Linked DNA regions of Homo sapiens: regions 2, 3 and 4 are each linked to region 1. The links come from fine-mapping of genetic effects on gene expression. A gene starts in region 1. Each other region holds a variant in brackets. All regions are shown on one strand. Distances are between the middles of the regions.

Evidence for each region. PIP is the estimated chance that this variant, and not a neighbour inherited with it, causes the effect.
Region 2: its variant is fine-mapped to the expression of CYRIA in whole blood (TOPMed, PIP above 0.99).
Region 3: its variant is fine-mapped to the expression of CYRIA in adrenal gland (GTEx, PIP 0.98).
Region 4: its variant is fine-mapped to the expression of CYRIA in whole blood (TOPMed, PIP above 0.99).

What each region holds. Positions count from the first base shown.
Region 1 is chr2:16,661,747-16,669,611 of GRCh38, reverse strand. It overlaps CYRIA (CYFIP related Rac1 interactor A), which reads left to right and starts at 3,778. Exons shown (of 12, transcript NM_030797.4): 1 at 3,778-3,832. RefSeq lists silencers at 3,572-3,741, 3,812-3,861.
Region 2 is chr2:16,627,145-16,635,009 of GRCh38, reverse strand. All of the region lies in intron 1 of CYRIA (CYFIP related Rac1 interactor A), which reads left to right. Among named protein-coding and RNA genes, the nearest start is that of CYRIA, 35 kb to the left of the region's middle. The variant T/G (reference allele first, on the strand shown) is at 4,245.
Region 3 is chr2:16,754,114-16,761,978 of GRCh38, reverse strand. No RefSeq gene overlaps it. Among named protein-coding and RNA genes, the nearest start is that of CYRIA, 92 kb to the right of the region's middle. The variant T/C (reference allele first, on the strand shown) is at 3,102.
Region 4 is chr2:16,600,316-16,608,180 of GRCh38, reverse strand. The region is part of intron 2 of CYRIA (CYFIP related Rac1 interactor A); the gene reads left to right. Among named protein-coding and RNA genes, the nearest start is that of CYRIA, 62 kb to the left of the region's middle. The variant G/T (reference allele first, on the strand shown) is at 3,039.

The DNA of each region.
Region 1 (7,865 bases):
TGAAAATTGGCTCAATGTTCATAATCAAATCTATTATGCTCCCTCTGAAGCCTAGTCCATGTTTCCGTAGAAACCCCTAGTTACATAAAGGGGCCCCGGCCAGCAATTGGCAAGAAAACCCACCACCTTTGTAAGACATTATAGTAATGCCAGGGAGAAAACATTATATAATTTCTGCTGGAGATTAGTGGGCTTGGAGGGCAAAAATAAAGATTCATTCCTTGCAGAGCAGTAAGCAGAGAGCACTACAGGGCCTCATGACACAGGATCCCTCCGTCTCCCTGCCATGTCCTTATCTATGAATTAACCCACTAGCCAGTGGGTTAATAAGCACTTTAACACAGTTTGTAATGAGCACTTCCTACATGCTCAGTCCAATTCAAGGCACCACGAGGCCACAAACACACACACACACACACAACACTTCACATATTTTTTCTTTCACAGCTACAAAGCAGTTTATAATAGCCTTCACATCACCCTTCTTAGGTAGATTTTATTACTCCAATTTTATGGAAGAGGAAACAAAAACACCAAATGATAAAGTATCCAGTGAGTGGCAGAATTAGGATTTATGTTTGGCTTTGACTTCAAATCTATGGTTTCATCTGTGTCTCGGGAAAAAAAAAAAAAAGTCCCTGTCCTTGAGAAGCTTGTGCATGTGAAAAGTCCTGCATGCCACTCCTGAGAAACAGCTGTCACAAGTGATGTGTCAGAGGAGTAAGTGGCTCAGACTGTCAATTTTATAGAAATATTCAGAGGACAGAAGTTTGAGCCCAAAGTATCACACTGTCTCCAAGGCGCATCACTAGCATCGGAAGAAATAATTTTTGGTAGCTGAGATGGCAGAGGTAGGTATGTCAGCAAAAGTCCAGAAGCAGAAAGGATCCTTTGAAGAGACAAGGGAGTCAGGTGGTAAAGGGAAGTTGCTGAGGGATTTAGAGAGAATGTTTCACATGCCCTTGGATACGTCTCAGTGGGTGGAGAGGAGCCCTGGATAGAATCAACCTTCTGGGGCTTACCATTTTCACTGCTGCCTTCTCTTCTTTCTCCATTCACTGTTGCTAAGGACCTTAACCTATCGTCAGGCTCCTTATTCGGGGCTCTGGTTAAGGCCACTCAGTCCCCAGGAGCTCCCAGGATCAAGTGCAGATTCTCAGGCTGTTGTTCTAGCTCTCCACTCTCTGTCCCACGTTGTGGGATCCCCCTGGTACGCTGGCCACCCCGGACCACTTTTCACCCAGGCCTCCACTTTGTCTCTCTACTTGGAGTGTCTTTGTCCGCATTTCCTGCCTATTGAAGTCTAACTTCCCACGTCATATTTTAGCTTAAAAATGCGCTTTTCAAGAATCTGCTCTCAGTTTCCCCCAATCACAAAGAATTCTTTCTTTTCCTGGGTCCACACAGCAAATATCTCTGTTAGTCTTTTTCCACAGGCAGCCTGCCTGTGTCCTCCTCAAGACCAGGGAACTGTGTCCTTATTCCATTACTTAGCACAGTGCCTGGCACTTTGTCCATGCTTCATCAATCTCTTTTAAAAAAGAAATACATGAAAAAGATGTCCTTGAAACTAGCACAGCTCAGTATACATTTACTTTAATTAAGATATTAAGGTTCATCTTAGCACACATATTGTGAGTGACAACCATCTGAAATTCAGTCTCAACTTACCTGCCTCCTAAATGGCAGTTTAATTTCACTATAATCTTTATGATAATAACCTTTAAACTTGTTATTAGTATTACTGATAAAGTTAAAAGACTTTCATCTGGTAATTTTGTCTTAGGAAACATTCAATTATTAAATTCCACACTGATCATTAGAAAACCCTATTATTTCATAATGGGCTGGGCAATACCATGCAGGTATCCCTCGATTATTGAAACAGAAGCCATCTCTAAGTGTGTGGAAGTGAAATCTCATGCATCAAATAGTCTACTCACAAACTTGAGCTGTATTAGTAGAGACAGATGGGTGTAAAGTGAAAAGTCCTCTCATGGTCTGAAATGATAGTGTTTTATGGGGATGAATGGTGTTTGTGGCTGATTAGTCCTCACTCTTCCCAAAACCTGGCCAAACTCAAGGTGGACAGATTAAGCCAGAAAATTTTAGGGGTGTGTGTATGTGTGTGTGTGTGTGTGTGTGTGTGTGTGTGTGTGTGTAGTAGACATGGTTTACCTCATGGCAAGAAGGCTTTTCTCATAGAGCCACTCACAGATAAAACACCTTTGCCAGACGGCTGCGGTGGTTCACGCTTGTAATCCCAGCACTTTGGGAGGCCAAAGTGGGTGGATCACGAGGTCAAGAGTTCAAGACTAGCCTGACCAAGATGGTGAAACCCCGTCTCTACTAAAAATACAAAAATTAGCCGGATGTGGTGGCAGGCGCCTGTAGTCCCAGCTACTCTGGAGGCTGAGGCAGGAGAATTGCTTGAACCCCGGGGGATGGAGGTTGCAGTGAGCCGAGATCACACCACTCCACTCCAGCCTGAGCTACAGAGTGAGACTCTGTCTCAAAAAACAAAAACAAAAAAAACACCTTTGCAGGAATTGACAACAGAGGCTGGTCTAGGGCATGGGGAAAACTCAAAAAGAGAACGGGAAAGTGTTTCTTCTGGTCCTAAGGACCCCTTCCAAGTGGGAAAATATTTCACTCTAACTAGACAGTGCCTTCCTGCCCTCTGTGAATTTTTGCCAAAAAACAGACCAAGAGCCTCTGTGGGCAGTTCAGGAGAGCCTTTCAGAGTGCAAAGGAAGCTTGGGCAACAAGTCCTCCCAGGGGAAACACCCTGGATCTCAGAAAGGAGAGGGGCCTGAACACCTTCTCCTGATGCTTCCCGCCTCCTCTGATCCCAGCCCACACAGGGCCCCAACCCATGCAGCTTCGGGCACGTACCTTGGCACACTATGGGGATTTAACACATGTTTCATGATGTTCTGGCTGATGGACTGGGAAAGGAAGCACCCGAAGCCGGGGTCCCCAGGAGCTCTCCCTCCCCTCAACAGGAGCTCTGACTCACAACCTGTTTGGCACTGCTGAGTCCTCTCCGGTTTCCTGAATCTCCCTCTCTCTAATGCAAAAAGCCTCCATGGCAGATGTTTTAGAACAATGATCACGTCAATGACGCTGTAACCCACTACTTTCTTTTTGCATCATAGAATTTTTTAAGTGTTTTTGCAGACTTACTCTTTAAGGTTAATTACATGTTTTGGATTGAGCCTTTGGGAAGACTTTACAGTGGTCCTATCGGATAACTGCGGGCCCCAAGGCTGGAGATCTGTTAATAGGGTGGGCAGAAAGGGACTGGGAGCGAGACTGGGTTCAGAATCTCAAGTAATTTGGAGTGTGCCTAGGGATTGGGATGATTTGGCTGGGCATTAATTTGAAGGTGAATATGCGTCTAGAGATTGCGGGGATTTCTTTTTCTTGGAGGGCAACCGTGGGTGTGGAGGAATTTGGTGTGCAGAAACAGAAAGGTCTGGTTCGGGCTTCCTCTGGGAAGGCAAGGCCAAGTGGCCAAGGCTGAGAAGGGGCAGGGGCGACCGTGCTGGGGCGGGTCCGCACCAGCTCCTGGGAGCAGAGAGCAGAGCCGGGCAAAGAGATGGGGTTGTCCAGGCTAGGGTGAGGACGCGGCCGGTGACAGCGCGGGTGGGGATCCCCCGGGGCCGGGGCGGGGCGGCTGCCGCGAGCCGGGCTGGGGGCGGGGCGGGGCGGGGAGGGACGGGGAGGGGCGGGGCGGGGCTCCGAGGCCGTCTCGCAGGCTGCGGCGGCCGCGGGAGAGGCGTACTCGGCGGCGGCGGAGCGGGCGGCAGAGCAGGGCGGCGGCGACTCGGTGAGCGCGGCGCGGCTGGGGGCGCGGCAGGGGCGCGGGCGGGGGTCTGCGGGCGCGGGGCTCGGCCTGCACGGGGCACCGCGGGGCACCGCGAGGCGGGGCGGGCGCCTCCCTGCCATCCTTCTCCTCCCGGACGCCCCTGCAGCCTTTGGGAGGGAGGGAGAGCGGAGGACACCGTCCGGGAGCCCTTCTCTAGCGATCGCCGGACAGAGGTCCGGCTTTGTGCCCCGTTGCCCTCTTTCTGAGAGGGCTGCCTCCTGATTGTGTTCCTTTCCCAGACCACCCTCCCTCGTCCCTCACTCACTTACCCCCCACCCCAGGTATCATAAGCTCCATTCTTGCAGGGGACCCCTAACACTCCCCTTCCCACCACCCGAGGCCCCGGGGTCCTGGGTACTCTCTACAGCCCCAAAGGGAGGGATGGCCCCCTCCCCAGCCCCTGCACACCTGGACCCTTCTGTTGCCACCTGCCACAGACGTTCTTAGCCAGCCAGAAAGCTGCTGTGCCTAGGACCCAGCACACCTTGCCGTCACCCTCTCTCCTCCCCCAGAACCCAGAACCCCAGTTTGGCAAAAGGCACTTTTCCAATACTGAGCTTTGGGAACAATTTGACCCACTTCCCAAAATGCTGGTCCCAGGCCAGCCATGCTTTTTGGTGGAGACACCTGTCTTGTCTGCCAGGAGACATTCTCTGTCAAAATGGGCCAGCCCGTCCCTGGGTCCTCCTCCAAGCTGCTCCTACTCGCTAGCCAGTGTCCCCAGAGACCAGGGCCAAGATCTTTGTCATTTAAGGCCTCCAAAGCTATTTCCCCACGCATCCCCAGAATTCCCCCAGCCACTGTTTTGGGGGTGCCAGGTCCAGAACTGATGGAGCAATCTTTCTGTGTCCAGGGCCTGATGTCCTCTCCCACACCCTTGTTTACCCGCCTGCTCCCCAGGGAACCCAAGACAGGGTCATGGGGCTGGAGTTTAGGGCCCTGATCTCCCCTGAAGCTCTGTGACCCTCCTTTTCTCCCTGTTAGAAACTTTCCTCTCTGTCACCAGTCACTATCTCCTCTGGATGGGACCTGGGCCATCTGCACAGTGTCGAGTCCCCAGGGCACAGAATGCTGATCTGGGACCCTGGAAGGCTGGGACTTGTGCTGGGGCAGCAGGAGGAGAGTGGCTGCTAGCCAGGTCTGGGCTTGGGTACCAGAGTTCTTTGGGTGGATCATTGTCGGCTTTCACTGATCTCTGGTTGGGGTTCGAGGGCTTGCTTTGCAGTGGAGACAGGAGGCAGAGCAGGGGCTGTTTTTCCTGCGTGCTTCTGACTGTCTTGTGTTGCTATGGTGACAGTTTTGCCTGTCTTCCTCCTTCTGACTCTTCTGGGAGCTGGTTTTTATTGGTCCGTTGTCCTGTCTTTCATGGCTCTAATTTCTCCTTTCTACTTGCTCTGAAATAAACAGTCATAAACATGGGCGCTGGGCCCAGGCTGGGGGCTGGCAGAACTTCACCTCCTGCTGGCCCTGGGTTCCTGTGAGGGGAGAGTGGGAAAGCGAGGTGGAAACAGACCTGCCCACATTCCCTCCTGCCTCTGGGCTCTGGCTCTGGGAAGGGGGCAGCAGCAGCATCACGGGCTTGGGCACATAGTGGGCGCATACTGCCTCAGTGCTAAAAATAGATACCAAATGTGGCAAAGGACCTCACTGGTGTTATTTCCTTTCATCTTCACAATAGCCCCATGGGGCAGGGGCTCTTTCCACTTTGCAGATGAGGAAACTAAGCTCAGAGCAAGTGAGTTATTTCCCTAAGGTCACATTGATTTGAGCACACAGTCAGCCCTCAGTTTTGGTTCAATGAATGGAAAAGTGATGAAGCTGACATACACGCATCTCTGTTGGGCTCCCTGGTCCTGTCCGAGGGATCACAGGGACTTCCTTAGTCCAGCTGCCTAAACCCACACTATAGGAGGCTCTTTAGAAGGTGTCTCCACTTTTCCTGTCCCTGCTGGACTACTGTGGAGGGAGCTGCCAGGAAGCTGTCTGGAGTGTCCCAAGTGTACCCTTGACCTGAACTGTTGAGGACCCCAGCTGAGAGCAGAGCAAAGCCACTTGTGACTTCCTGTTTTTACTCAGCACCAAGAAGAATTCAGTTTGCATTTGCTCCCAGGCCTAGATGCAACTAGATAAGTCAGGGACCCAGAGTCAAGTAGACCCTCCCAAGCCAGCCCTGGGCAAGGAGTTCATAGCTCCCCAGGGCCATAGGGGCACCCACTGTCAGCTGTCAGTGACCCTCTCCAGTGAGGCTGTTCCTTCCCTTCCCTGGTGTTTTTTTCTTCAGTACACGCTCTTCTTTTCCATTCCCTGCCAGTCCCTTCACATTGCCATGCTCTAGGTTTGTTAAAAATAAGCTGAGCACGTATTATGGTAGCACAAAAAGACCAGAGAATCAGCAGCCTCAGTGTCAAATGTTGGTCCTGAGAAAGTCAGTTCACTCATATAGCCTCAGTTTCTCCATCTTTAAAATGGGGTTGACAGCATCTATCCTACTGGCCACATTTTCTTGTTCTTTTAGGATGGCATAGAATAGCCTACCGGGAATGCTTTGAACACTTTGAAAGGCTGAAGGACCCATAATGTCCTAGTTCTATTGGGAGATCTCAATCTTAAAGACAGCCCTGGACCACTGTCCAGAGATTGAAAACTAATTTAGGCATAATTAAGCTATAAAATCTCAGGGTTAGAGGCATCCTCCAGGGGCATTTTGCCCAGCCTTGATGTTGAATCCTCTAACTTATTTATGTATCTTACATTTATTGAGTATCTGCTTTGTACCAAATACAGTTTTGGGAACTAGGGGTTCGAAAAATGAGCAGCATTTCTGTTTTCAAAAAAAAATTTAGTCATGGAAAAAGATCCTTATAATACAGTTAGACAGGTGGTATGATAAAAGGAAGGGCAGGCTGATGTAGGGCCCAGAGGTGGCCACTTGACTAGGTCACCCATGAGGGTTGAATCAGGTGATTTGTGCTTTGGGGCTGAAATACATTTGTCCTTCCACTGTCCACTTGAGGAGCAATGGAGTGATGGTTGGAGAGCCACACATCAGCCCTTGTGAGCAGGGTAGGGGAGAGAAGCATGGCAGGGAGCCAGGACTGCCTTTCTTACTGAGTTTTGACTCATCCTCTCGTAGAAGTCTCCGGTTCCAACTTCATCATGGTTAGAATCTTGTCTCAGGAGCTGCATGAATTACCTGACAAGACATCATGGTGATTAGAAAGAAAGTGGTCTTAAGAGTCAGGCATGAGTTCAAACTCCACTACTGCTTTGTCTTAACTGTGGTTGAAGGTGCATCTAACCTCTCTGGGTCTCAATTCTTACATCTGAGAAATTGCAGTAATTATACTTGCCTTCTAAGATTTAAATGATCTTATGTATTTAAAGGGTCTGGCATGGTGCCCACTTCACAGTAGACTTGCTGTTATTTAGTTATATTGATTAGAAAAGCGTTCTCAGTTACTGGACCTCTGGGTCCCCTTAAAACCATGGTACAAAGCTCTTTGGATGAATTCTAGCCTTTGGAGATCCATTCATTATCTGAGAAGGTTAAAAATTGCCCATGCTCAGGCTCCTAGCACTGCTGGTTAATTTTCAAATTATTGCTCACTAGATAAGCTATGTTCTACAATACCACAACAATGCACGAATCACCAACACTCTTTTTTTCAAAGGAGAACAAATTTGAAGTGGCAGCAAACACCCTGAGTTTTAGAAACATATTCTATCTGTGAGAATACTTTAAAATGAATGCCTCGTATTTTTTATTCTGAGCATGTTGAACTTCTTTTTTTTAAGTTACTATAAACATTAATATACATTTTTCTCAATTATCAGTACAATTCTATGACATTAGTATTATTGTCCCCATTTTACAGTTAAGAAAATGGGGAAAGGTAAAGTCCCTTGCCTCGTGTCTAGAAGCTAGGAAGTGGCAGGACCAGAATTTAAAGCTAGGTTCTGCTTGCTCTTTGTGCCGTAGTACACAGCATTGTCG
Region 2 (7,865 bases), 35 kb after region 1:
AGCTTTAGCTACAATTTAAGTCTTGTCTTCCCAACCCAGTGTCCATCTTATGGATCCATTCAGTGGTTTGCTCCTAAATGCTTAATAACCAATTATCTGGGATAAACGAAAGCCAAACAAACTTGCTGGGAGCGTGGGACAATTTCCATGGTGTAAATACTTCCACCATGGCTGGTTTCAAGCTACTTCCATGGCGTCACTGAATGTGAAGTTGGGAAGGGATCTGTACAGTTGGATCTGGTGAGCTGGTGCCAGCCAGCTCAGAATGCCCCCAAGTCCATGTGTGCTGCTGATCACATATTAGTCTTGCTCTCCTCTGGACCTTGTTCTGCCACCCCCCAGACACATGCCCTTATCACTGTGATGTGCTGTGGGGAAAGCAGTCACCTGGTAAGAGTTTTTGATAACTTCTCTGGATAAACATAAAGCAGTTAGAGTGGAGTTATCCCCCTCTTCTGTTAAATGAAAGTTTCTTTTCACAGTCTTTCCATTGAAGGAATTAGAAAAGTCATGGGATACCTCTGGTCTTAGAGCAGAAATGAAGTTCCCCAGAAGGGGGTCCTGGACAGAATGGTCTCTTGGGCAGGGACTAGATGCTGTTACTTACCATCAGATGTGTCTACTGTAAGATGCTTGGGAGGCATCAAAGTGGTGACAGTGGGGGGCTGTTGGATTTTACCATTCTGGAATATAAGAGAAGGGGTGTGGCTGGTGTTTTAGTCCAGATAGCAGCTGTGACCACTGGGAGCCTCATTTTCCACACCTGCAAAAGGAGAAATAGTGATCCCCTTCCTAGTGTTGGTGTAAAGAGTAGATGAACCTCTGCCTGAGTCTCAGATGCCTGCTGCCCACTTGGTTGCTTAGTGGATCGGCTGGCTGTCAACAGTGTAAGCTTATCAAGCCTAAATACTTAGTTGGTCTTGACTTTTTCACCTCGACCATGACTCAGTGTCATGTGCTCCTAGTCATTCTGTCTGTGGTCCAACGTTAGCCTGGGAAGCACCTGGGACTGAGGGAAGAACCCTCAGCTAGTTATTCAGCGATCCAGGTTCTCCTCCTGCCTTTGATATCACCTCATTATATAACCTTGGGAAACACTTTGGTGTGACTGGAATGTGGATACTCCCAGGGGAAGGGTAGGAGCATGGTAGGGCATTTGGACTTTATCATGAAGGTGGTAGGAAATACTTGAAGGGTTTTAAGCAGGGATGACACATCATCAAATGTGTGTTTTGAAAACTTTTTTCTGCAGAGGACAGGGCCACAGCCCAAGCAGGATCAAACCAGTTAGGAGATTGATGTAACAGTCCCGTCAGAAAGTGATGAGGTAGCTGGGTGCGGTGGCTCATGCCTGTAATCCCAGCACCGTGGGAGGCTGAGACTGGCAGATAGTTTGAGACCAGCCCTTGGCAACATGGTGAAACCCCTTCTCTACAGAAAAAAAAAAAAAAAAAAAAAAAAAAAAAGCCAGGGATAGTGACCTGCACTTGTAATCCCAACTATTCGAGGTGGACATTGCAGTGAGCCAAGATCACGCCACTGAACTCCAGCCTGGGTGACAGAACGAGACCCTGTCTCAAAAATAAATAAATAAATAAATAAAAGTCATGAGACAACTCATAGGCACTAAATGCTGAGTGGCACAGACAGAAAGTTCTATGAGAGTTCAGCAAAGGGAGAGGTCAGTATGGATTGTGGTCTTAGGTGGGTATCAGAGAACACTTCAGGGAGGAAGTAAAACTCTGCTGCTGGCCTTGAAGGATGGTAGACAGGGTGGGGGGTGAAAGTCTAGGCTGCAAGGCAGGGCAAGAGGGTACAAAGCTGCAGTAAATCACATTTGGGCTTAAGCTGGGAGTTAACATAAAGGATGGCTCTAATTAGTATGCAGTCATTTATGGAAGAACTTGTACCCTCAGCTTAGGAATATGGATTTTATTAGAAGTGGTGGTTCTCACATGGAAACTGCATTTTCCTGTAGTCAGTTTCTGTGGGGAATCTTATCATTATCTATTCTTCTATCCGCTGCTCCCCTCATTGGGGTGGAGGGTGTGCACCCCCCTCCTGCAGCCCTGTGCTATTGGGGAAGGCAGAATCCCTTTGCATCTTGGGGACGAATGCAATGCTGAATACTGATCATATGACCCCTGCTTTGCCTCACAGCAGGGAGCCTAGGAACAAGAGCAGCTGTGCTATTGTCTGGAGCGCAATTGCCAGTGTTTGTCTGCCGAGGCCAGGGATGACCCTTGCCAGCATCATAGATAAGCCGGCTCCCAGCTGTCATGGGTGCATTCTCAATCATTCCTCATCCTATGGACTCTGACTCTCTCCCGCTTCCCAAGAATGATGGAAGTTTTTCATTTTCCCCCGTGCCTGCTTTGTGAAAGTGTGTCTGGCTCTTCCCACAAAGATGAAGGATGACCAACCTCAGAGTATCCAAATAAAATGAGATCTGTACTTTCTGTGAAGTGTTAGGAAACAGTTTGCTAGAAAATAGTATGAGCGATATATCATTGCCTCTGAGGCTCACATGAGGAAATTGAGGCTCATGAGTGTGTAATGACTCCCCTGAGGTGGCACAGACAGGAATTGGTAAGGTGGAAACTAGAAACCAGGCACCCTCTGAACTTCAGCATATTCCTGTTGGGTTTGAACAGGAGCATTCTATAGAAGAGGCTTCATTGTCAGGGTAGTTTTAGCAGAGGTTTGCCTGATAAGAACATGACTTTCTCAAATGTCAGTGTGTCTCCTAGGTTAAGCTCTTATAGAAACACTCCGCTGAAGGGCACTTCCAGGCATTGAGAGTCCCAAGACTGTTCAGCCACTGTGCATGGGGCAAGTCACTTGCCATGTGGAACTGGAACCCAGATCTCCTGCTTCTCAGCCCAGAGTGCTGTGCCTCCTAGCCGGCCTTATGGCATAAGTGGTCTCTACGGAACACCCAACAGAAGCCACCTGACAGTGTCCCTTGTAGATAGTGCTGCAGGCTGGGGCACTGGGAAGCTTTGAGGTGGTCTGTGGGACTCAGGGGGTGTTCGCCATGTGACACCATGTGGCCTTTGGGTACATGAGGGCTGTAGGTGTTCACAGGATATACCAGAGCATACCAGGATTGCTGGAAACTTGGACAACACATGACTGTAGCCAGACTGACTCTAGATTGTCCTCACTGCAGCGTGGCCATGGTACCATTGCTTAGTTTCTCACTCCAAGGCAGCGTTGGCCTAGAACCTCTGTAACATACCGTTACATCTGATAGTCAAGGTCAGCTTGGCCTCACTCATTTAGGGCAGTAGTATTTGCTGAAATTCAAATAGATACTAAATACTGCACTGGTCACTTTAAATGCTAGGTATCCCTAATGACCCTGGAATGAAGTTGTTATTCTCATTTTGCAGATAAGGCAACTAAGGCTTAGCTCCAAAGACCTGAGACTGAGGTTTATGATTGTTGGGCTTGAGTCCCCAGGCTCTTTCTACAGCCCCATCCTCCACTAATGCTTACTAAAGCATTTGGGATATCAGCTTACCATCCAGCTACAGATGAAATTTAGAAGCATCAGTATGTGTAAAGTCCTCCACAGCCTGACAACAGCCTCTTTTTCCACTCATCTACTCACTGTATCTCTGCCACCTCTTTCCTTCCTCCCCAGCTACGCTGGGCTATTCACTGCCCTCAGAGAAGCTGAAGTTTACAATTCAACCATCACCTCTTCTCATTTGTGCAGGGCTCTGGGCTAGTTACAATCATTTGTAAAGATGAATGAGACATGACCTCTCCTATTAAGTAACTTTCCACTCAATGGTGGAGATAAAACACGAACACAAATATAATAGCTCATTTGGTTTTCAAAGTAGTCCAAAGAGGCTTGCTGGTATATATCTCCATATGATCTGCATTTAACAGGTGTTGTATCTGAGGATCTGACAGTAGTGACTGACTAAAGGTCACACAGCCCAGCCAAGGCCAAGTTAGGGGTAGACCCGGGTCAAGACCAAGTCAAGGCAACCTCCTGGCTTGCATCACCTGGGGGTGGTCAGGCTCAGACTCCACAGCCCAGATTGTTGGTTTTTGTCTTATTGCTGCCTTCCTGATGGAGACAAGGCAGGCTGTCAGCCGCTGACATCTCAAACCTGCTTAAGGTGTGCCCCTTACCCCTCCCTAATGGTGATGCTCCTGTAGTTGGAGCCGTGGATGGGAAGAGGGGAGGTAAAAATGACCCTTTGTCTGACATCCAATTGTGCTGT[T/G]GCTTGGGGTTGTCTGAGAAGAGGAAGCTGGTCTCCTTGGGTTTCTAATGTGTCTCCCACTTCCTCACTCAAAGGAGACCTGGTGTAACTGACATTCTAAAATGCAGTCTCAAGGAGAAGGAACCCACCCCAGCGGTTGTGTTCAGGCAGTGCAATGTGAACTCATCGAAAAGCTTGGTGGAGTTTCCTGAATGCTGCAGCCAGTTTGGCAGGTGTTTTCCTGCCCTGAACATGGGTGCACTCACCTTAATGGCCATTCAGGTGTTACAAAGACCACAGAGAGATGTTAAACTACAGCCTTGGGAAATGGGACTAATGTGAGCCCAGGAGTAGAGATCTGGGCTCTTGTTCTGGTTCTGCTACCATTTGCCACTTGCAATTGCCTTCTCTGCCCCATGACTCATAAACACCACCTCTGAGGGTGGCCTGGGTCCTCTCCTTTGCTGTAGAGTACAGTGGTCAGGGCCCAGGTGGGGGTCCCTCAGATGTGAGTCCAAATGCGCACTTCGTTATCTACTCGCCATTAACCCAGAGCTCATCACTCAGCCTCTCTGAGTGACTGTCCAGCTCCTTATCTGTAAGATGTGGATAATAGGAGCACTGCCATTTCCAGCAAGAGTGGGGCGAGGGCTGGTAGAACATCCAGGTGATGTCTAGACCATGCCTGGCACACAGTCAATGCTCAGTGAATAAGGGTTGGTATCTTCTGCCCCATCACCATCATCACCGGCGTGTTGGCCTCTGACTGTCTAGGACTGCCTGAGCCACGGCCACTCCCAGTTAGTCACTATCTGGTCTCTGGGCTTCTTCCATGCTCGGCTTCCCACCATGGGAAGGCTGCATGCTGGGTGGCATCAGACAAATCCTTTCCTTTTCTAGGTCTTAAGCATCCCCCAGAATAACATTATAACATATAGTCATAATCACAGCTGTTGTGTGTTGAATGGTAACCCGTAAGAAGATAAGTGCATTCCCTAATTCCCACAACCTGTGCACATGGCCTAATTTGCAAAAAGGTCTATTTACCAAAAAATCATCACTTGCAGAAGCCCCTACACAAAACAGGTAAAAAATATCTCTATTCCTTTTATCACAGGATGAGGGCCCAGAGCCCTGCACGTCAGTGCCTCCAAGAGCCCTGCCAGTTTCTAGGGCTGCTAGGAGCTGGCAGGCTTCTCTGGGGCCTCTGAAAATCCCTGGCCTCGAGGTCCTATGATGCTCCATGATTAAACATACGCCAGAAACGGTCTCTTCAGAGAACAGACAAATGCCCTCTGCTTTCTCATTAGCTCTGCACTTTACCTGTATTGATGGGAGAGTTTGTTAAGAGTGATTTCCTGGCTTCAAAAGAACAGCAGATTCTTCCTTCCTCTTGTCAGAGATTCCTAAGAAGGCAGATTCTTAGGGAAAGAGTAAAACAAAAACGAGCTTTAAACACCACCTCCTTCCCCACTAGGCCCAGTCAGGGGAAAAGGGAGGATCTCTCACCAGGTTAGAGCTGCTCACTCCCACGCATGATGGGTGCCTGCTGGCAGCAGAAAAAGGCCAGGCCTTGTCTTAGAGATGCGCCTGTCCCCTGAGGACCCCAGGTCTGTGTCCTCCCAGTAGACTGCGGTTTCTCCAGCAGGTCCAGTAGTGGTGGCAGCTGTATTCCCGTGCTGGTTTCCCATCTGCTTGTCTCAGGCTGTCCTCAATGGGACAGCCACAGAGTCCTCACTCTTGAGGGACAGGCTGCTTATCAGAACAGCTGGGTATTAGGGTTCCGGGGCTTCCAGGGCACAAGGAACCCACCAGTCTTTTAAAATACACTGTTTGAATTAGTGACACCCTGCCTTCTCAAACCATAACATGACTGCTTTATAACCAAGTGGCATCAGCCTGTTTATCTATAAGGCCAACAAGCTCCGTGAATTCAGAAGACAGGCAGGTGAACACAGGGAGAGTGGATTATTTGGAAAGAGTATTTGTGTGGATTGGGAAGCAAGGCATTGCCCAGAAGGGTCCTCTACCAACACAACTGGACATAAAAATAACCAGCCTGTGGGAGTGTGGATTGTATTCGGGTGACTGCATGTTCTTACATGCCTAGGACAGTCCTGGTGTCTGCCTGTTGTCCCAGCAATATTATTAAAAGGGCCCCCTTTCACTCTCAGAGGTATCCTCGTTTGGATGATAAACCATTAAATCACCCCAACTGTATGACTGTGTATATAAAAGTGGTTAGCAGCACTTAGTGTGGATGTGTAGCGTAGGGAGTATGTGGAAGTAAACGCCTGTGCCCATGTGCTCTGACAGCCCAGAAGCTGGCTGTGGGTTAGCACAGCTGCACAGTTGTGGGTAAGTCACTTAACCATTTCACAGCACACACGGCTTTGAGGTGAGATCAGGGGCCTCACAGTCCGATAAATGGTGGTTCAGATCCTTTCTCATAGCCTGCTAGCTTTGACCTTTATAGAATTACTTAGCTTTCCTCAACTGCAAATTAAGAATAATCATATGGACCTCTCAGAGTTGGTATCATTTTTACATAATCTATATACACATCTAGAATATTTCCTGACAAATCATAACCTGCCAACAAATGGTGGCTGTTGTTGTTGTTATTATTCTAGGGCTGTGACTGTTTTTGGCTTTAGCTCTTCATTGTAGAAATGGTGAGAGATGACCCCTGTCTTTCCTGGCTTCCCAGGCATCATGAGGCTGAAACCCAGTGGCATCCCCGAAGCCTGGTGTCCCGGGCATGTGTGCACTGCTGGTGCTGGGGATGCAGAAAGGGAACCGCCTGCCTGCCCGCCCAGCTGCTCCATCTCTCTGGGACATAGGAATTGGCTTTCCAAGGCATCATCCCCTCCACCCATCTCAGGCCCTGCCTTCATCCCCTCCCTGGCCCAGCCATGCTGTATAAACACCAACACCAGGATGTCATTTACTGGTGTTGCCTGACATTGGTCGGCTGCTACCCAGAGGGCACTAGGTACCAAATTCCTAATTCTGCCTGCACAGCAGCTGTCAGTCTTTCCTGCCTGGAGAGTCTCCTATCTTCCTTCTCTCCTTTTGAAGGAAGGTGTCATCTGTTCCTAGTGTATTTGCTTTATTCTCTTTCTTTCCACTATTTGGCTTTGCAGAATTTGAGCCAGACTGCTTAAGTTCACACCTTGACTCTATCACTCAAAAGCTAAATCCCATGGACAAGTGACTTAATCATTTTGTGCCTCAGTTACCTCTTCTGTAAAAGGGGACAATAATAATGCCTACCTAGTTTGGTTGCCATGAGGTTTCAGGGAGTCACTACATGTACAGTGCTAAACAAAGCCCAACACACAGTAAGTACTTGATCAGTGTTAGCTATTTTTATTATCCAAACACCTGCCCCTTCTGGTTTCTCAGTGTTGCTCTGTGCTTCTGGCATTGAGGGACTCAGTCTAAGCTCTGCTGCTGGTGAACTGTGGGCACAAGCATGCCCCACCCTGGGCTTTGGGTCCCTTGATTGCCCACCCCGGAGGGTGGGGACACAGTCTTTGGGGCCCTTTCGGCCTCCCGTAGTGGATATTGCCTTCCCTTCAGTTGTTGTGCCTTGCTTTTCTATTTCCAGAGCCATTCAGAAGGGGAAGGCAGCAGCCG
Region 3 (7,865 bases), 92 kb before region 1:
CTTCCCCAACCCAAACTTCCTTCCCAGCCTCTGGTACCTATTATTCTATTCTTTACCTCTGTGAGGCCCAATTTTTTAGTTCTCATATCTGAGTGAGAACGGGTGATATTTGTCTTTCTGTGCCTGGCTTCTTTTACTTAACATAATACCCTATGGTTCTATCCATGTTGCTGCAAATGACATTTCATTCTTCTTTATGGCCAGAAAATATTCCAGTGTGTGTGTGTGTGCGTGTGTGTGTATGTATACATATATATATATATACACACACACACACATATACACTGTGAAGATGTGATTATATATGTATATACACACATATACATATATATATCACATTTTTCTTTATCTACCATCTGTTGATGGATGTGTAGGTTGATTCCATATCTTTGCTATTGTGAACAGTGCTACAGTAAATATGGGAGTGCAGGTATTCCTTTGATATACTGATTTACTTTCTGGGAAAGAATGTTTTTATATAAAGTTATTTGTATCTTTCTTCTTGGAAGAAATTAGAATTTCTGACAAAATTGTTGAGTAATTTTCTAATAAACTTTTGTAGGACTAAGAATTTTCTACTCTTGCAGCAAATTCATTGAAATAAAAATATAAAGCTCATAACTGACTTGTTTAGAAACTATTTTTAACAAGCTTTAACCTTTCTGTAAGGGTCCCTCTGAATCGTGTCTATGAAATGTGCTTTTAATTCAGAGGGGAATGGGTGTGTCCATTTGCTATACCAAGAGAACCGAACTCCACTTTGGTTGAGAAACACAATCAGTAATTTAGTAACTGAGGAATAAAAACCACAGAGAGAGAAGAGAAGAAAACAAGAGGAAATGTTAGGAAAGGGAAAGGGAAGGAGCAAATTATTACAGCTCCCAGGAAGCCCTTGGACCCACTTGTTTGCAGAGGTTCATAAGCCTTACTGAGGGCACAGGATGGTGGGAATGCAGTGAGGAAGGAGATGTGAGAAATCAGAGAAGTGCCCAGAGTCACATCTCACAGGGCTCTAGCGACCTGGAAGGACCTGGGCGTTTACTCATCTCCTGGGTGGAGAAGAAACTGCGGAGGGGCAAGTGTGGAAACAGGGAGACCACCTAGGAGACTGAGGCTCAGGGAAGCAATCCCGGGGAGGGGGGACAGTGGCGGGACCATGGCACTGGAGGCAGGGAGATGGGGCAGCCTTGTGCTGGATTTTGAAGGGAAAGACACCAACCCAAATAATGAAAAATCAGAAGCAACATGGGCAAGGACAGCTGAAGGCAGACGCTTTACTTCTGGAATTTCAAGGTCACTTTGTTGTGACAGCAGTCAACTCTTCCAGCGAACTAGATTGTGCTTTATCATAACAACCTTGTAAAGTACTGTACTTCTCCTTTGCTTTGCTTGGTTTTACATGTGGGTTCTGTTTTTACATAAAACCAAATGTGGAACTTTATTTCAAGAATTCTTTTGTCACTAGCCCTGGTGTAATGTTCTTTTCTTTCTTAGTAAGATTTCAAATCACGTTTTTGTTTGTTGTTTGTTTTGTTTGTTTGTTTGTTTGTCTTTTTGAGACAAAGTCTCGCTGTGTCACCCAGGCTGGAGTGCAGTTGCGTGATCTGGGCTCATAGCAATCTCTGCCTCCTGGTTTCAAGCGATTCTCCTGCCTCAGCCTCCACAGTAGCTGGGATTACAGGTGCGCGCCACCACGCCCTGCTAGTTTTTGTGTTTTTAGTAGAGACGGAGTTTCACTATGTTGGCCAGGCTGGTCTCGAACTCCTGACCTCGTGATCCGCCCACCTAGGCCTCCCAAAGTCCTGGGATTACAGGCATGAGCCACCACGCCCAGCCTTCAAATTACTTTTTAGAGCAATAATAGCAACAGTAACAATAACCGCTAACAAAATTATGGGCCAAGTGTTCTTCTAAGCAGTGCCAGTCACCAGGAGGCAGGTACCACTGTCACTCTCATCTTACAAAGAGGAATTGGGCAAAGAGAGTTGAAGAACTCATATAGGTCCCAGATCTATGAATGGAAGTCTGGGGATCAAAGCCAGTCCTCTAAGCTCCGGGTCCTGTGCTCTTCTTGACCACCAGGCCCTGCTACTTCCCAGCACAAGCCTGCCTATGTTTGTATCCTTGCAATTTTGAAAGAGGGCAAATTATAAATTCAAAAAGTATAAGCAAGTTCTAATTTAAACACGATAAGGGAAAGCTTGATAGACACAACTACAATGCAAATTTCAGTCTTCAATCTGTTTCTGAAAATATTTCTTTTTCAAATGCCACTTTCATTTTATTGCTGTTTATCCTCATCACATTCAAAATTTAAAGGCTAGCGTACCCAGGTCCTCTTCTGATCTGAGAGTAGCCACCAGAATCTGCTTGAACACCATTAATAGCTTCTGTGGGCTTAGCCCTTTGGAAGGTAATGGGGATCGTTACCTCCATTTTGGGGTCAGGGTCTGAGAAAGACATTGTAGTTCCATATTTATCGTGTTGTCACCTAGAGCTTAAAACTCACACCTTTGCACCCAAGAGCCTAGTCCCCTACCAGAAAGCTGGGCCTCATATGGACAAGGCAGATGGCTGATGGCAGGATTTCGGACACCAGTATGATCGTTTAGGGCAATACATTTGCTCTAAGGCCAGCTGTTACCCATGCATGGTGCTGTGGGGTTAAAATCAAATTAAAACAAACAAAACTAGAAAGAACAACCTTGGATGTTGAGTGAAACAGACCTATATTTGCATCCTGGATTTAATACTTAATACCTGGGTCACTTTGCAAACTACCCTTTCTGAGCTTGCCTATAAAATGAAGCTAAGAACAATCCCTGCCTCTTACATTTGTTGGCAGGCCAACTCTTTCTTCCAAGGCCAGAAACTGTATCCCGGAATAATCTTCCCTGTGTAGTCCCATATCCCCATTCAATGAGCAATGCACACCACAGCCAGAGGCCCTGACAGACTCTGGGACCAACCTTATTAATGGGAGGCCTGAGAAAACACCCAGAAATGATATCTATTATTTATAATTACATAGTGCCTGCCATTTTTATGAGATTTTTTTCATATATTATTTAACTGTAATAACGGTCCAATGCAGGAGATAC[T/C]GTTAGCCCCATTTTTCGGATAAAGAAAGTGAAGCAAAGACACGCTGAATGAATAAGTTGTCCAAAGCCACACTGCTACGAAGTGGTAGAGCGAGTTTTTGCATCTCAACAGTCTGTTCTGGATCTTGACTTTGTACTGCTGTGTCTCTGAATATTGGACTTACTTTCCAGTGAAGTAAAAAGACATATAAACAGTTGATTCGAAAGCAAGGTGGTAGGCCCAGCGATGGAGGCATGAAGATGTTAACTCAAGGAGTCGGATGAAGGACACCTTCCTTAACTTGGTGGGTGAGAAAAGACTTTCTGCAGGAGCCGAGGGATTACATCAGGAGTTCCTAAGCATTAGTGCACATGCGAACCACTTAAGGTATACATAAGATCATGCCACTCTCCGCCTACGCCTACTGATGACCTCCCATTGCAAGCAGCATACAAACCCAACTAGTCCTTCCAGATCCAGCCTTCCCTGTCTTTTCTGATCCCATCATCTTCGACTTCTGTCTTGTCCGCTAGCCGGCTATCTCTCCAGCCTTCTCTGTGTCTTGGACCTGCCAACCTCATTCCAGTCTTGGGTCCTTTGCACTTACTGTTCTTCTTGTTTGGAGTGCTCTCCCCTCATAATAACCACCTTCTGCCTGTCCTCCACAGCTAAGCCCTCTTCAGACCAGCCTCCCGTTCCCTCTAGCTGACATAGCTCCGTTCCAAGCCATTCTTTATCACAGTGCCCTATTTATCATCTTCAAAGCCCTCGTTAGTACCTGAAATTATCCATCCATCATTTCTGCATCTATCTGTCTGTCTGTGTGTTTGTCACTTGTCTCTCCCCACTAGACTGTAAGCTGCTGGGGGCAAGGCTGTGTCTGTGCACACCATATCCCAGAGTCAACTTCGGTCCCTCTATCAGTATCGGGTAGATTGCCTGGGAGCTTCCGAAGGAGGATTTCCAACTGCTCAGGGAAAACTTCCTGGAGGAAGGAAGACTGGTGTCGGGACCAAGTGATATGAATTTAGGAAAGAGAAAGAAGATGTTTATGGCAGCGGGGGGTTGGCCTTCTTTTTCGTCTAAAGCAGCAATTCAAATTAAAAAATAAAATAAAATAAAGGACGGACATCACCGTGAGGTGCTCTGAAGTGCTAGAATGGAGGAGTATCAGACAAGGAGCCCAGAAACCTGTGTTATTGCCCCATCTCTTCAACTAATTTATTGAAAGACCTTAGGTAACCTCTGTCCCCTCTGGACTGCAGTTTGCCCATCTGAGAAATGAATGGTTGGGATTGTATTGGTCTCTAAACCACCCTTCAGCGCTCAGATTCCAGAAGGATACATTTTGACCATCCTTGTCCAATCACTGCCTCTAGCCAGGGACACACACTCAGCTCTGTCACCATGGAACAGATGTGTCAGCGGCAGCAGGAATTGTTTAATCTGAGCCTCCACCTGGTCCCTCCAGTATGCTCTAGGCTTCCTCGCCCTAGAATGTGGTTATTAACTCCGAGTGACCACCAGGTGGCGCCGTTCCCCAAGGCACTGTGCATCCTCCAGAAGGTCATTTGAATGCCCTTGGAGCTTGATGACACGCAAATAACCCAGACCGATGTTCAGTAAATATGTTGGGGTGCTAGCTCTCAGGGGATGAGAAGGCATTGCTACATAACCAGATGTAGAGAAAACTGAAACGTGGGAAAAGCTGAGAAGAGCAGCCTCCTCTCCGAGTTTATACAGCCAGACCTGAAGGGGTGGAAGGGGTCGGGACTGCATTTCTCCGTGGGTGCTCATTCCTGCCCTGTGGTCCCCACGTCCCCACCCGGGCCCCTTGACCCCACCGTCACCTCGTGAAGTTTCTTTCCACAGCTGTGAACTCGAGGCCACGAGGATTTTGCAATCTTCATTTTTGGAGAAAACACAAGGCAGTTGTTGCTCTGACCCAGGGGCTCTGGCCTGCGGGCCCTGCAGCTGTCTCTACAAGAGGCACATGCAGGCAGGGGCTGGAGAGAGGAATGAGCAGGGACCATCGCACTTGAGATTTGTTCTCGCTCTCTGACAAATTCAACAAATATCCACTTAACCCTTCATCTGTGCCAGGTGTCCTGTGCCTCAGGCAGAGCTGATGCCGCCTTCTGGAATTCTCTGACCAGCAGGTAGACAGGTCCATAAAAAGGGGTGACAGGGCTCTACAGGTGACAGGACAGTCTAAGGAGGGTCCACCGAGGCTGGAGTGGCTCAACCTAATTCCCACAGAGACTCGGGCCGGTCAGGAAGACTCATATAACAACTGACACGTGAGCCAAGCATTGCAGGAGGACACTAGGAGGATGAGGGCTCTATCCATGTAGGAGGGCAGTGGGAAAAAGGCATGGCCATGAGAGAGTCGGGGTTTGGAGGGCTGAACATGTATTGGGGTAGCTGGGACTTAGATTTTAAAAGAAGAGTTAGATACCACAGAGGCAGGGAGGAGCCGGGGAGGTAGGAAGCACATAGACCCGGTGTATGGAGTGGTCCGTAGCTCTGCATTATCCCAGAGCAATGATAGTTATCTGGTCATCATGGGGCTTTCAGCTGGAGAAGGAAGGGATCAAACAGCTTAGGAGAGTGGCATGGCTGCACCCTGATGCAGAGATGGGTTGGGAGGCTGCATGGGATCAGACCAGAGCCAGACTCACAGGTAGGAGCTTTGCCGGAAGTCGATGCAGCCTGACTTAGGGCCGTGGCCACAGGATAGAAAGGAGGCAGCAAATGAGGATCACCGCCTGGCAACAATATCAACAGAGGAAAAATAAGCCCCATTGGTGGTGACAATTATTTTTTTCGTAAATCCACAGGAGAGACATCCTCAAGATGTAATTTATGTGTAAATCAGTTTGTATTTTCACTGGCTAACAGTGGAGGATATTTGAAGATCTTGTCTTCCTATTTCTTTGTTCACTGATTTTTTTCTGTTGAAATTGTTTGAAAATCCCATGTTTAATATGACTCGGGATTGTCCCATCTTCAGCTGTTTGCATAGTGTCATTTCCTATTTCTCAGGAGTAGCTGGCTTCAACGAAGCATCCAAAACAAACAGATGAGATGAAGCCAGAATCAAAAGGCCGAAAAAAATGTGATTATGAAGCAGTGTGGGTCGTGGGACCAGTTTCCCTTCACAGTTGTTTTTACTTACTGTTTGCATCAATTCTCCAAGCGGTGTAGATCGCCCCCTCTCCCCACCCACACTCACTCTAACCAAAGACACAGCTCGGACTCAGGGAGACAAGCCAGCCGCTGGACACTTAAGAAGGGCTCCTTCCAAGTCCCATCACTCTGCATCTGCTGGATCCATCTGGGCCCTGAACTCTTTACAAGACCATTGCATAGGCCACAGCGGCTCCTCCAACTAGCAGAGTTCTCCCGGGAGAGAAGGCAGTTCCTATCTAAGAACAGGATTGCAATGCCCACCTCTCTCTGCAGCTCCATCACGTGTGGCCATGTCCACAGCTCAGGAAGGGACAAAGGGCTGAGCCTGGCCCTGAACACAGGGCTCTGTTCTTGGTAGGATGTAGGATCCCAGGGGTGTCTGTGGACAAAATGCTACTGAGAAAATTTCCCCAAAATGACATGACAGGAACAGGAGATTATATTCTTTGAAAGGCCTGATTAAGGAGCTAGTTTGAACCCTGTGAGGATCCCTGTGATGACCTGGAAGTGAAGACTATTGGCTGATAGTCCCAAAAATATTGCCAACCAGCGATGCAAATGACAACCAGTGACTTAAATTATCTTAGCCTCAGGACTTTTATTCCCACTCTCCACCACTATAAATGAAGGGGGTTAACAGGATGGTCTTGAAGTTCCTTCCAGCTACAGTAGGATTCTCTGATTCCATTGAGAGTATTTTTACCAGTAGGTTCAGTAAGGTTGTTGGGGTGAGGACAGAAGATTCAAACTAGAAAACAATCAGCCCCTGCCCTCAAAGCATCCACAGCCCAGGAGGGAAAGTGTGCAGACAGACAGCAGGTGCACCACAGAAGCGATGCCCTGCAGGCCCCACTTTGAAGGATGAGGGGGGACTCCAGGCAAGACACAGCAGTCAGAGGAAACAGTAGGTGCAATGACAGGGACATGGGGAAGAGTCTACTGTCTGAAAACTGTGGGATTCTTCACTCAGGGCATGAGGATGAAAGAGGAGGTGAGGTGGCAATCACACCTGAAATTTTAGGCAGAGTCAGGATCCTGGAGGACCTTCACTGTCATACTAACAAGTTTAGCACCAACACTCAGTCTTACCAGAAAGGAGCTCTGCCTCCATCTGCGTATGGCCTTCTCTCCTCTTGTTTGTAAGAACACTTGGCACTGGATTTAGGGCCCACCCTAATCCAGGATGATCTCATCTTGAGATCTTTAACATAATCACAATGGCAATGACCTTTTTTCTAAATAAAGTCTCATGTGCAGGTTCAGATGTACATCTTTTATGGGGAGCACCATTTGCAGTGGTTAATACTGAGTGTCAACTTGATTGGATTGAAGGACACAAAGTATTGGTCCTGGGTGTATCTGTGAGGGTGTTGCCAAAGGATATTAACATTTGAGTCAGTGGGCTGGGAAAGGCAGACCCACCCTTAATCTGGGTGGGCACAATCTAATCAACTGCCAGCATGGATGGAATACGAGAAGGCAGAAATATATGAAAAGAGAGACTGACCTAGCTTCCCAGCCTACATCTTTCTCTTGTGCTGGCTGTTTCCTGCCCTTGAACATCAGACTCCAAGTTCTTCAGTTTTGGAACT
Region 4 (7,865 bases), 61 kb after region 1:
GTAGTGACTACTTATCCAGTCCTTCCCATCCATCTCAGTGGCCATAAATGAATAATGCGATGTGTGGGACCCTGCTTGGTGGTTGGGCGGGGAGGAGTGAGGAGGAGTGGTTGAAATGGCTAAAACACTGACAGCCAGTCAGAGATAGCCCCTGCAAGAATCCACAACAGCAAAGGTGCTTACTTATGCCTGGGGTTTGGGGAGGAGGTTACTGGGAGAAACGATAGGCCGTCTTTAGGCGTTCAAGGCAAAAGGAACAGTATGAGCAAGAAAACAGAGGCAAGGACCGGGCACTCTGGCTCACACCTGTAATCCCAGCACTTTGGGAGGCCTAGGCAGGTGGATTACTTGAGGCCAAGAGTGCAAGACCAGCCTGACCAAGATGGTGAAACCCTGTCTCTACTAAAAATACGAAAATTAGCCAGGTGTGGTGGCACACACCTGTAATCCCACCTGCTTGGGAGGCTAAGGCAGGAGAATCGCTTGAACCCGGGAACCTGGGAGGCAGAGGTTGCAGTGAGCCAAGATAGTGCCATTGCACTCCAGCCTAGATGACAGAGCAGACTCCATCTAAAAAAAAGAAAAAAGGCAGAAGCAAGGAGGCAGGAGCCCTTCCACTGTCATATTCTGGTGTGGCTTATGTACAGAGTGATCAGAGTAGCTTCAGCAGAGGGGCGGAATCTTGAAAGAGAGCTCTAAGCCAGGCTTATAGCCTTGCATACCAAGTAAAAAATTTACCCAGCTTTATTTGACAGCCAGCTTAGCAGGCGTTTATGCTAACCATGGCTAACTTCGTCGACTCAGCTAACTCTGTATTCTATTTGCTCCCTGGATTCTGTCTCAGGAAGTAGCACCCCCCACCCGCCCCTCCCTGCCTGACAGGCCCACCTCCCACCACTCTGCAGACTCTCACCTCATCCACCTTTCCTGTCCCAGCCTTAGGTTGACCGTCTGCACAGCTTGCTCGGGTACCAAGCCAGGGCTTTTATTTTAACATGTTAGTTTTGTTTGCAATGATGAGTACGTTGAAACAAGGGCAATTGCTCCTTTCAGAAGCTGGAAACAAAGGCAGAGCCGCACCTGTCTCTGAGATTTCAAGTGAAGTTTCAACACTTTGGACATTCTTGATGCTTGAGATTTCACGGAGCATGCTAATCTCTCTTGGCCTCATATTCTTCAGGTTTTTTGTATGTGATGGCTTTTATTGGATTTTTTTTTGTTTCGGTACCAACATAATTTTTTATATCCCCCTGCACTTCCCAAAATAAATTTGACCTGGGAGCAAATTTCCTTTGCTCCTTTGCTTTGACATGTCACATCCAAAGCCTCCTTTGGTACCCAGATGAGCTCCAGTTTAAGAAAACTCAACATCTGAAAACCTTCTTAGATGTCGAGTCATCCCAAGGTCCTGGGGCCATCGAATTCTGCAGGGCCTTTTGCTTCCCAGAAGGACCATTTTCATCAGGACTCGCCTCCTGGTCCCTTGACCTGATAGGTTGTATTTTACCACCTGCCAGAGAACTATGGAGGCAGATAAACTTCAAGAACAAATGTGTGACACAGTTGCCTGTGGAATGAAAGCTGGGCAGGGAAAAGGAGAAGGCCTCTTTTTCATTTTGTTTTTTTTTTTTTTTAGTTATATTGTAAGACAACAGGAATGGAAGAGATTTAATTCCCCAGAATTAGTTGTATATGTGACATTCCCTGTAACATGTTCAGAGACTGGTGAATGATCCCAGGGGTCTCAAGTATCCAATATAAGAGTGGGAGGAGGAGAGAGAGAGACTGGAGAGAGAGAAAGGAGGAGGACACCCAAGAGAAGGGCATCGGGAAGAGGAATGGATCTAAGGGAGACATGGAGAGAGTTTGGTGGGAGAGTGGATCAAGGGGTACAGCAGGTAGAGAAATCTCAGGTGGTGCCCAGGGCTCTGGTTATGACACTGGGAGGATAATAATGCTTTTTGTTGGGTGAGGGAAGAGGAGAAGATTTTGGAAAGAGTGGAAAGTGAGGTTTCTATGGCCTTCCCCGAATGGCTATGCTTGTGGGACATTCACTTGGATTGATGGGCCTGGAGCTGGGGACAGAAGTCTAATATAGAGCCAGAGGTTGAGAGTCATCTGCCTATGGGTGGAAATTGGAGTCAGAAGGGTCACACCAGGGAGAATGAGAAAAGGCTGAAGAAAGAACATGGAGACCAAGACTTAAAGGCCAGATGGACAAAGTAGAAACTTGAGGAGGAACTTCCAGAGAGGTGAGAGATGAGGAAGGAGATGGGTCCCAAGTATCTCAGCAAGGAGAAGTTGCTCAGCGGTGCCCATGACAAGCCTTCACCTACAGCTCTGCTCTCAGAGGGTTAGAGGGTCTTGGCTGTTGTTTATTTAAATACTTGAGAATGAATTCTGAAGAAAGGAGGTTTGTAATCCAAAAAACTGACAGCCTGTTTAAGCGAATTCACTATCAGAACAGCCCAAATTTGAGATAACTTCTAGGTGTTCCCTTTTACTTTCTAGACTGGAGTTGAAACCAACCAAGAGAGGAAGAGCAACTTGCCCAACATGACACTAAGTGAATGGTGTCTCCAAGATGAGTGCTTGGGTCTCTGGGGCCCCTTGCCCTGCATGGGGTACCTTTCCATTTGAAATTAGGCAGAACGGGCCTGGGTAGGCTGAGAGTGTCCACCTGCCTAGGTAAGAAGCAGGTGTCTCAAGCAGTTTCCTCATAAGCATGTTCTTGATTTCCCAAGAGAAAGGGGACAGATTCACTAGTGACTTCCCAGCGGTGGCCTGGGCCGGAGCTGAGCCCAGTTTGATTGCTTCCATGTCACTAGCATTTGAAAGTGGGGGACACATTGACTTTCATTCCCTAAAAAAGAATCTAATTTTGCCCTCATTTCTTGGGTACTTTTTGCTGCTGTACTATTGATGTTTATGGAAAAATTAGCTATGATGAGGTAATAGTCTATTTTAGAAAACTGAACTCAGATATTGAAAGAACTATTTTAAACCTGCACTTAATTGTTCAATTCCATAATGGTTTC[G/T]TGGTTTTTTTTTTTTAGAATTCCCGTGAATTGCCTTACAACTGGACTCTAGCAGCTTGTATTCCATGGGGAATGCCAAGCCCTTTTGAGGGACACCATGGTATTAATGATCGATGAGAATATTCAAGGCATTTTCTCATTTGAGTGCCATTACTTGTAGTGTTAAAACGTTTTGAAAACACACTTTAGCCATTAACTCATTTTTATTGTCAGATGAAAGTGCTTAATAGACTCACTCCACTTCAGTTTTCTTCCTTCATCTCGGAATGAAATCGTCTGTTGGATTCTTGGCAATACATTTGACAATGGAACAGAAAACCTCATGACTTCATTGCAAAAAATGGCAGATGGAGCAGGGATGTGCAAGCCCAGCCCCGCCATCTAAAATGGCTAACCTGGCTTAGCAAATACAGGCTCCCAGAATGTATCAACTGAGCTACTTCATTCCAGTGGTGCATATTTTTCCCCAGAAAAACAGCTGCTTATATCATTTAAGAAATGTACCTTTAGATGAGAAGTATTTTTTAACACCACCTATTGATATATTGTAAGCTGATGATTAAATGGAAGTGGGTAGTTTGTTTTGCTTGTAATTCAAAACAGTCAGATGGTGTACATGTTGTAAACGGGGTTCTGTGGTGACCAGGAGAAAGCGTGTCTGAGTCATCTGAATACTAGACATGTCAGGGCTGGGCCCCTTCCTCCTGGGACACCCACTGGATGCCAGACGATGGCTGGGAGGAGCCAGAAGTGCTGCTGGCTTTGCAGAGCACTGTGGGACATCTGCAAGCCTTTGATGTCACTGACAACAGTGGCCGCCCTGGCTGCCCATCAGGATTTCTCCAACTCTGAACCTTGCTGATAAGCTTGAAAGGTAGATTGTCTTAATTGCCCTCCTAAAATCACATCCAGTCTCCAGAAACATTCCTAAAGCCAAAACTGGACTGTTTTCCTCTACTCTGTTTTCTTCTACCCTGCTGGGGAAATCTTGGGGCCCCATAGTAGCTAGAAGGTCAGACTTAACGATAAAACAAAGCGAGGTAGCAGGTGCAGATGAAGGCGCTGGCCTGACGACGTGAGAGGCCAGGTCACGCTTGTAGCTCTGCTCCCAGCCCCACACAAGGCATAGCCCAGGTGCGTGTTCCTAGACTTCAGGATTTCAAAAACCAGTAACATTTCCAAATAAACCTGGCATATTTAGGATATAATTACAACATCATTTTCCAACATAAATAAAAACCGTGTAACATAGAAGTGTTTGAATAACTTTCTGAAAGGCTCATGACGTAGGCTTTGTTTTTCTCATTTTGCCTTGGAGGGCTTGGGAACCACTAGTCAGAACAATCCTAAGGATTTATTTTTCAGTGCTTACTACATGCTAGTCCTGTCCTTAAGTGCTGGGAATACAAGGTGGTGTAAAAGCAGCCCTGCCCTAGAAGACAGGGAGATACAGGAGAAAGCGTATGTAATTATGGTTTGCTGCGATAGGCACTGTTGCATGGCCCACAAGACATGTTAGGTGAGCAGAGACGAGGAGCTCACTCAGAAGAGTGGCTTTTGTTTTTACTGGTGTAGAATAGAGGGGGAGGGAGGGCTCAGGGGGTCCTTCCAAGGGTCCTGATCTTCACCCTCCTACTTCAAAGGAAGTGTGGGGGAAGCAATTGCCAAGAGCTGGTGCTTAGATGTCAGATAGAAGGGGATTCCAGTGACCCTGATCTGTCACTGGTGAGATGCAGTAAGTTTCTAAGTCTTTAAGATTATTTATCTCTGAAACTGGGATAATAGCAGTAACTATTTCATATGGTTGTTGTAAAAATTAAAATATGGCAATACATAAAGCACCCTCCTCACTCTGGCCTGCAGATCATTAAGAATGTTAAGCAGACAGAGCAGCATGTGCAAGGGCCCTGAGGCAGTCAAGAGCAGAGCCACTCTAGGGATGGGATGTGCAGGGCAAGGCTGGAGTGGAGGGGGCGGGGTCCAGGCGTTCTGTGCCCAGTGCATTCATTTGAATGCATTCTGTCCGACAGGCACTGGGGAGCCACAGAAGCATGTTAAGCAAGGAAGTAGTATCTCAGATTTGTGATTAGGAAAATGGCTCTGCCGGCAGCATGGAAATGAGTAGAAGGGAGACAAGACTGGTGTCAGGAAGATCAAGTTGGAGACTATTTGCAGGATACTGGCAAGCTCTGCCAAGGGTATGAATCAGGAAAATCAAATTGAGAAGGAAGGAAAGTGTGCAAAAAAAAAAATTATTCTGGACCACCAGCGAGGGTGTCCTTATTAGGGAGCAAAGAGCATTCTGAGTTCATCATGTCTTAGAAAATGAACTTGATGCCCCATTTACTCTTTGTATTAATGGAGAGAGCATGAGATTGAGAGCCACAACATCTCTCTTCTAGTCCCTTCTTTGACCCTAATGTGCTGTGGATTCTTGGACCCATTCTTTTTTTGTAAAATGAGAGCTTTAAAAAGATGACCCCAGTTCTAATATGGAGTGTATTCAGATTAAATTTGGGGATGTAGGGGGCCTGTATATTATGAAGTCCAGGACCCATCTGGAGGACCTTGGGAAGGACACTTACTATACCTGGTCATGGAGTTCTTATACCCGTAAAATGGGTCCAATGATAACTTTTCTCCCTTTGACATATGTTCATACTGAAGATAAATGCAATCAGACACATCTTTGACAAAGATGTGAAATTATATAAATATATGTTATTGGTGTATTCATGGTCAGTCTGTAGTTTAAATGCTATGTTGCCAAAAAAAAAATTGGATGAGTCAGGACTTCCTTATTCCCAAAATGTTGTTATAGGCAATCTGAGTCTTCGATTTCTTCAAGTCTTTGCACCAGAGAGGCTAAAGATTATAGATTCTGGAAGGTATTGGGTCATTCAAAATGATAAGAAAATCTATCCCTTCTGATAGAGGTCTTCTTATCTGTTAGAGATGAGTATTATTGTCTTAGATTTTAAAAAAATGTTAGAAAATAAACCCTGGTAGGGCTGCTGTTGTATTGATTTGTTTTCTCACCTTCTGTTCATTATTGATAAAAAGTAGCATTGGCTTAGGAATTCTCCTTTCAAATAGTCATAACCAAAGAAAGAAATCTCCTAGGAGCTTGTGATCTACTCATGAAGGTTGAGCATTGAAATTTTGGTATACACAGGCAGAGGTCATCATTCACACTGCCCTGTTCCCTGGGCCTGCTTCCTTTGATATGTCTTATTTATAGAAAACAAATGAATTTCTCCATAAACCACAGTCACTTCTTTTTAAAATAAACCCTGCTTGATTTCATTTGGTTTTATACTCTGGGAGTGCAGCTAATGCTATCAACTTATTTTTCTTCTAAACAAAAATAGAGTTGCAAATAGTGAAAAACAGTGTCTGCATATATGAATTCTCTCTTTTTTTTTTTTTTTGAAACTGGAAATGTGACTAGAGAATTATTTCTTAAAGAGAGTCATGGTTTTCCACTGAATAGCCTTAAAGCCAACTCTCATAGAAGTGGTTTTGAACTGAGAGCCAAGAAAGCGGTCATAGAAAATACCATGAGTACATCCAAAATTGTCACCCCTTAAAGATGAGTGCCTCCCTTGGCAAGGGCGTGCAGGCAGGCTTTAGAGGCATTGCTACCACTCCTAAAATGACTAGAGAAACACCCATATTCTAGACTATTTGGGGGAAAAAAATTGAATAACCTATTTCAAAATACTAGCACAGTAAATGAATCTTGAGGAAGAAATTCTCTGTTTTTGGAGGATTGAGGGGTCACCCAATGTGTATTCTGTGTTCCCTTCACACTCAGAATCCCCCCCAACCCCCTCAGCTGGAGGGCTTCTCTCAGCCAACCCGGATTCCCAGTATTCTTCACGTTGGGTGGCAGCTTGCTTCTTCTATCGAGCAAACTCTTCCAGAAGACTTCACCCCACATAATTTTCTCTTTTCCTTCATTTCCTAAAGAAACACCTCCCTTCCTGTACATGCTATTGAGTAGCACTAGTGTAGAGCCAACCCCTTTGGAATCTAATGGAAGCTATGGGCTGTCTCCCCAGAAAAAATGAGCGTGTTCATTCAACAATACAGCACCCTACACATACCTTCAGCTGACCACACTCTCTGAAGTCCCCAGGCAGGGGCCTCCTAGGGATGTGGAGCCCCAGGACTTCTACTGTGCAGAAAAGAGCATAGTCTTCAGATTCACAGAGTTTCAATGTCAAATGTGACTCTATCTTTTATTTTCTTGTAGTATTTGAAAAATTGTTTAGCCATTCGAACCTCCTTTTTATCCCCCCAATCAATGTGATGATAATTATAGCTACCTGATGTTTGCTGTAAGGTTTGAATGAGATAAAGTGTGTGAAAGCTTCAAGTATAGTGCCACACACACAGTGGGCACTCAATAAAATGCTGATGTTCCAGTTTCTCTCATAAATTATAGTAGTAATAACTATAATTACTCTGTTACTTAATATGTAGCGGGGACATACTATTATTTTCACATTCAATTAATATATTTGAGTACTTATGATTTATCAGGAATGTGATACGTGCTTCTAGATAGATTAAATTGTTTAATTTAACTAGTGCTGTTTCCCTAAATAGAATGTGCATCACCTGAATGCGGAAGCCATGTCTTCTCTCAGTGCATACCCCACCTGTAAGTGCCCTGGGGATTGAGTAATTCTCTCAGAGTAATTGTTAAAGGTAGCATTTTCATTAGAAAACCAAAGGAGGAAGAAGAAACTTGCCACCCAAACTGTTATCAGATTGCCTTTTCGTGGGATAGGCATTGCTTTTTCCTTTTATTTTGCTGTC